Regions from separate parts of the Homo sapiens genome. Here region 1 is reported to be linked to region 2. Evidence: microRNA targets listed by miRTarBase, many of them from high-throughput screens and not tested one by one. Region 2 holds a microRNA gene; the other region holds the end of a gene's coding sequence.

The links. Region 2 holds the annotated microRNA hsa-miR-4295 (CAGUGCAAUGUUUUCCUU, at 2,065-2,082, shown strand). A microRNA usually pairs through its seed, bases 2 to 8, with sites in the 3' UTR of a target mRNA and lowers its output. Matches are read on the target gene's strand: a 7mer-m8 pairs with bases 2 to 8, a 7mer-A1 pairs with bases 2 to 7 and ends in A, and an 8mer does both.
Region 1: the mRNA of RFX7 is a reported target of hsa-miR-4295. Seed matches in the 3' UTR shown: 7mer-A1 at 882-888 and 8mer at 2,252-2,259.

Annotation. Positions count from the first base shown.
Region 1 is chr15:56,090,614-56,093,613 of GRCh38, reverse strand. RFX7 (regulatory factor X7) reads left to right here. Exons shown (of 10, transcript NM_022841.7): 10 at 1-3,000. The coding sequence ends at 269. Among named protein-coding and RNA genes, the nearest start is that of NEDD4, 99 kb to the right of the region's middle.
Region 2 is chr10:112,632,116-112,635,312 of GRCh38, forward strand. MIR4295 (microRNA 4295) reads left to right here and starts at 2,055; the gene lies at 2,055-2,139. All of the region lies in intron 5 of VTI1A (vesicle transport through interaction with t-SNAREs 1A), which reads left to right. It overlaps LOC124902503 (a long non-coding RNA gene), which reads left to right. Exons shown (of 2, transcript XR_007062292.1): 2 at 1-3,197.

The sequences.
Region 1 (3,000 bases), not on the chromosome of region 2:
ATCTCACTAATACTGCATCTGATTTCTCTAGCGATATCAGGTTGTCTTCTGAGCTCTCAGGCAGCATCAATGATTTGAACACTTTAGACCCAAATCTACTGTTTGATCCAGGTCGTCAGCAGGGACAAGATGATGAAGCTACACTGGAAGAATTAAAGAATGACCCATTATTTCAACAAATTTGCAGTGAATCCATGAATTCTATGACTTCATCAGGTTTTGAATGGATAGAAAGCAAGGACCATCCTACTGTTGAAATGTTGGGTTAAATTGTGTTTTATAACATGTAGCACACTGTATCTAAAGACATATGTATTGTATTTGTCTTAATGGAAGTGCCTCCCGCAGCAGAAATACTATTAATTGTGACATTTTAAAAGCGTTTGCTGCAGAAGTGGTTTCTTCAGTAGGAAATGGTTAGACTTGCCTCAGTTCTTAACAAGTGTCTAAAGACAGTAGGCTGTAGAAGAACAAGTATTAGGTTTTAAATTTTATAATGTGCCCCATTTATTCACATTGATTGACTATCCAGCTGTTACAAGAGCAGTCGATCTTTATTTTGTGTAAGTTAGTTTCATTTCATCAGATGATCTGCACAGAACTCAGAATAAACCATCAATTTTAGGTATAGGCTGTTTTGTTGTTGGCATTATCTTTTAGATATAAAATCATAGCTAGGGTGAACTGTAGACAAGAAAGTCTTCCTTGAAACAGGGATAATATTCAGGTTATTATAAATATTTAGGCTTGAAGCATAGAGCTACTGTAGGGTGAAAAATCTCTGTAGGACTTTCTGGGGCTTCAGTACCATTTACACCCACGATGAAGGGCTTAAATAGAAAATAATGGAAAATTAAATATTACTTTAAGGAAAGCAAAGCTGCACTAAAATTTTTAAGGGAAAAAAAACAAGTAGCCATTTATATTTGTGACCTTGCATTAATATTTAAATGTTGATTTTAATATGGAGCTAGCACACATAGATGCGCAGGCACGCACACACAAAACAAGCAAATGTAACTCCAGGCATTTGTAATTTAATATAATAAATACAAGCATGTTAGAAAAATGCTTTATGTCTTATTATTTGTTAAGTTAGGGGAATGAGAAGGAAAACAAAAGCATTCTCTTAGTTTCATCACAATGGCTGCATGTACATATTGAGATTCTAACTGAGATTTACTTTGAAATTTTTCATTAAAATATTCCACAATAATCAGTTTTTTTCCTCTTCAATTGAGTGACTGACTCCCTCACTCCTCCTGAATATAGTAATGTAGTTTGATCATAGGATCCCTTTGAAAAACAGGAAGGAGGATAACATAAAAAACAACAAAAAACATTTCACCACCTAAGGTCTGAAGCCACAAATCTTTATATCTCTGATGAAACAAAGGGGATATCAATAGTACTTGAAGAAGAAGAGCATTTTATTACTTGCTTAATTTATTTATTGTGATAACCACAATTGCAAAAGAAGAACTCAGGATTTGTTTTAAAATGTTTCTCTCTATGGCTCCCATTTTGTTTTGTGAATAATTATTTATGAGTTGCATGTTGACACAAACCTACTCACTGGTTGAAAGCTCCATTTAAGTGAGTTTCAAGATCACTTTCAAAGAGATTTTTAAATTGCCATTGTTTTTAAAGCTAACATAAAACCATTTGCTATGCTACCTTGAACCTAGCTAAGCTTTCCTTTACCTTAGTAAGCCAATCAGAAGACTACAATCAATGAATATTTAGCAAATGTGCTGAAGGGTTTAATAAGGTTTTGTTGTTCAATAAATTTGCAAGGTAGGGTATTAACATATTTTGATAAATAAATGGTGCTAGAGTTGGCGCAGAGGTTTATATATTGATATGTCTTAGTTATTGGCATTTGTGTGTGTTTGCTGTTATCTTGATTTCATGATTTGTTAGGTATTTTTTTCTTGATGCTAGTTATTTCTTCACTGTACATTGAGACACAGCACTACTGCACACCAAAGTATGCAATACCCAAAGGAAACTGTGTGATTTCTCCTGACAAATGATGGGAGCCTTTCTTTATGAGATACTCTGAAAAGGAGATTTTGAGGCCATTCTAATCCCTTGTTTACATTATTAGCTTCCTACTAATATAAAAATAATGGAAATCTTTTTTGATAAAAATATTAAGACTGGAGGATTTTTAACCCCTTGTACAGTATTGCAGCAAACTCTTTAAATTTGGTTGAATTCGTCCAGCAAACTTTCTGGGGTTCATATATTGCACTAAATTTGTTGAACCTGTGGTAGGCACATCTCTTAGGATAAATGCAACCAATACAGTCCACAGATTAAACTTTTTAAATGTGTTTCATTATGAAAAGACAAAATGTCATCAAAGTGACAGATAAAATTGTCTTATGTAGCAATGTGCATTGATCTCAATGAGATATTTCTATTATTCTCTTACATGAGAATATTACAGCAGGAAGAATTAAGTTTAGTTTGCTTCACCATGTTAATACATGATCACAAAATGTGCATGAGTGTTATTGACTTATCTTGTACAGTACTAGGATTCCTGTAACCACTCTTTTTTTTCTTCGCTGTATTGAAACTGGTTCAGTGTTAACCAGGCAAGCATAGTTATTCACAGGTTATTTACTTTATGTTTACTAATTCTGCTTAGTTATTGTTGAATATGTTCTGTTCCAGATTATTTTTATTGTTTTGATGTTTAAAACATTTTGCATACTGTTTATCATAAAACTTCATGAAGTAAATAATTTTGCATATAATTGCAATAAGCACTGACTTTTGAACTGAAAAGAAGGAAAGTGTTTTTTTGTGCAGTGCTTCTGAGGTTCATATAATAGTCTTGTACTATAATGTGCTTTACTACACGATAAATGACAAAAACAAGCCCTGTTTCATGTTTCATTTAGTGCAAAAAGTCAGATTTCCCCAGTGTTTTGTTGTCTGTTGTACCTGCTGAAACTACAGTAGTTGAATATTGCGGTAGCATTTCAG
Region 2 (3,197 bases):
CATTTTGAACCTTTGTTGGGGCATTTTGGTTATCTCAGTGATAACTCAAGGGTAATAAACATCCTGGAATGTATTGCGTAGTCTTTTACAACACTCCCTGATCCTGCACAAACTCTCAAATGTCCTGCTGGTCATTTGTGAAGGTGCACACCCTATTTATAATTATCTGAACGTAGTTTTCCATATGAACACAAAGTATTTTTGTGTGGCTTGAACGTATGTGGAGTTTTCCAAGTATACAATAATTGTGTAAAATCAGGGTTTATTTTAAAAGAGTTCTTTACCATTGAAGGATAGACAGGATTATGCTACAGTAACAAATTAACCTAGAAATTCTGGTGGTTTAACACAACAAAGGTTTCTTTTTTATTTATGCTAAAAGTTGATCAAGCATTGACAGAGGGCTCTGCCCCACTTACTCAAGCATCCAGACTCCACCATGGGGATCGTTGCCAGCCACTGCGGGCAGGGATAGACGGGATTCACATACCAGCTCATCAATATTTTGACCCAAAGTTGAGGTACATCACTTCTGACTATAGTGTACCGGCCAGAAATAGTCATATAGTCCTACCTAACCATAAGGGGGTTAGGGAAGAGGAACAGGTGGAAAGTTGGGTGAGTACAGTGTTCATGGTAATGCGACTTGTAGTATTTGAGCTGTCATTACAGTGCTTGTGGATTGGTTTGCATATGTAGTGTCACATGCATGTTGATTGTACATGCATGTGACAGTTGTATAGGCACAAGCATGTACTTACTTAGTTGTATCTATTAGTATAGTAATGCCTGGGTATTTACAAATAGAAATACTTCTTATTTTGTTGTAAGTTATTTTCCTGTATTTATATTACAGCTAGGGCATTATATTGATTTCTTTTTTAAAAATCCTGTGTGAAATATTTGTTACAAAAAGGTGGTCTGGGCTGGGCGTGGTGGCTCATGCCAGTAATCCCAGCACTTTGGGAGGCTGAGGCGGGCAGATCACGAGGTCAGGAGTTTGAGAGCAGCCTGACCAACATGGTGAGTCCTGAGAGGAGAGGTCTGAAGGAGAGGAGAGGTCTGATGGTGATGAAAGCCACTTTTCTAGGTCTTCGGCATCATCTGGAACACATAGTGGGTCATAGAGAATTACGGGACTTACATAATAATAGTAAGAAGAAGATTAGCTCACATCCTTTGAGTACTCCGCATGTGCCAGGCACTGTGCTAAAACCCTGTAGGTTGATTCTCTGCTTTAAGCATCACCAGAAGCCTGTGAGGAAACCTCCGAATTCTCCATCTTACAGGAGAGAGCTGCTTTTTTCCTTCAAGTATAATGGAAAAGTTGTGGTCCCCAGAATTTCTGTCCTCCCTATGCTAGCACGAAGGGATAATTGATCTTCAGACATTGAAAAGAGATAGCAGGCAAAACACCGGGGCTGGAACAACACAGCAGGATACCCAGGGATCCCAAAAGGAAGTCAAAGAAGAGATTGGAGAAAAGCAGTGGTGAGGAAAAGGGCATTGCCCCCAAAAAGTAATGTCTCCCATGCAGAGAAGACTAGCATTACATAAATGTGTCACTGAGAGAGTTACCTTACCCTGACTCTGTCACCAAATTTTATTAAATGCCTCTCCTATTTCATCCTTGTTGGTGAACTTCCCAGTTCTTCTCTTATTTTATGGGCATAAGAGCTTATACTTTGCAGTTTAGTTAGTTAATTTATTTAAATAGCATTATCAAGTTGGCTCTAGACTAAAAAAAAAAAAAAGTCATGACTCACTCCAGAAAATACCATCAGTTAACAAACGGAAAAAAGGAAAAAGGATCACAGTTAACTCAGAATTATAAAACAATGGTTCTTTTAGGCTTCCTATTTTAGTGGTGTATCCAAACACCTTTTTCCCAGAGTAATAGAGCTTTCTTCCCTTTTGGTTGCAAGCATTATATGAGCAAGATTGGCCACTTTAAAAGTTTTGTTGCATCTTTACTTTCATTACTCAACCTTTATTTCTCCTCAGTCTTTATTCCATAAGAAATATGCTTCAATGGCTTATGCATTTAGAATTGACTTTGTGGAACAGTGCAATGTTTTCCTTGCCTGTGGCAAGACCACTTCGGTTCAAGGCTAAGAAACTAGACTGTTCCTACAGAGACCCTCTGGGTGACTCATCTCTTTTGAGATCCTGATTGTCCATTTTTTGGTTGGTGTTCTGGCAGCAGTGTGTGTTGCCCTGAAGGCACCCTCTCATATGGTGTTGACTACACTATGCTGTGCTATTTAATTCTTGTTTTGGATTGTGCCTCGAGTTTTAAGTCACTTGACAATACAGAAGGTTTCTTTCTCCAAAGATTATCAATATCATACCATTGCCTCTCGGTGGTTATACACACACACACAGACACACACACACATACACACACACACACACACACACACACACACACACGAATTTCATGTTTTCTTCCTTTTGAAACTAAATGTGATCTGTCTGACCTTTCTGAGGAGTCTGCTGCTTTTTCAGATTTATGTCCCTGTGACAAGGTGGTTTGGCAAGCTGTTTGTCTTAATCACTCAGCATCTCCATTAGACAAGCTGTTTAAAAATCTTCTACGTAATTATCTTTTTTGACTCTCACTCTTCCACATTCTTTTCTTTATTGTAAACTTTCTTATGACTTTTTTATATATCTGCCATGTTCTAAAAGGCATTTAAGCCTTCTTACACTGTTTTGTCTGCTTTTCATTAAGTTTGCCATCAATTTACAATCCATGCCCATTGCCTCCTTCACAATCTGAATACATAAACATGCATAATAAATAAACTCTGGGGTTGAATCCTGGACTGAGTGGCCAACATTTTTTCTGTGTCTTCCTTAACTGTTAAAATAGGCAGACAGAGGAGCATTAGAGGAGCTAATTCTAGGAGTCTCCTACGGACATTTGCCGGAGTTTTCACTGCCTTGTTGTTGCCTGTAACTGCAAAGTTCAGAAAGCTGGGGCTGGAGGTGCCTTTATTCATAATATGAGCCAGGCACTGTGCTCATTATTTGGGGGGAATAAAAGATAACACATTTCCTGCCTTCAAGCAGCTTTTACTCTGGTAAAGAGGATAATGCAGGCATGTAAATCTTGTGGAGATGAGACAGCGTGCTGAGGAATTTAAGGAGAAAGATCCCTTTGGTAAAGGCAGATGCAGAATTCATGGCAGATG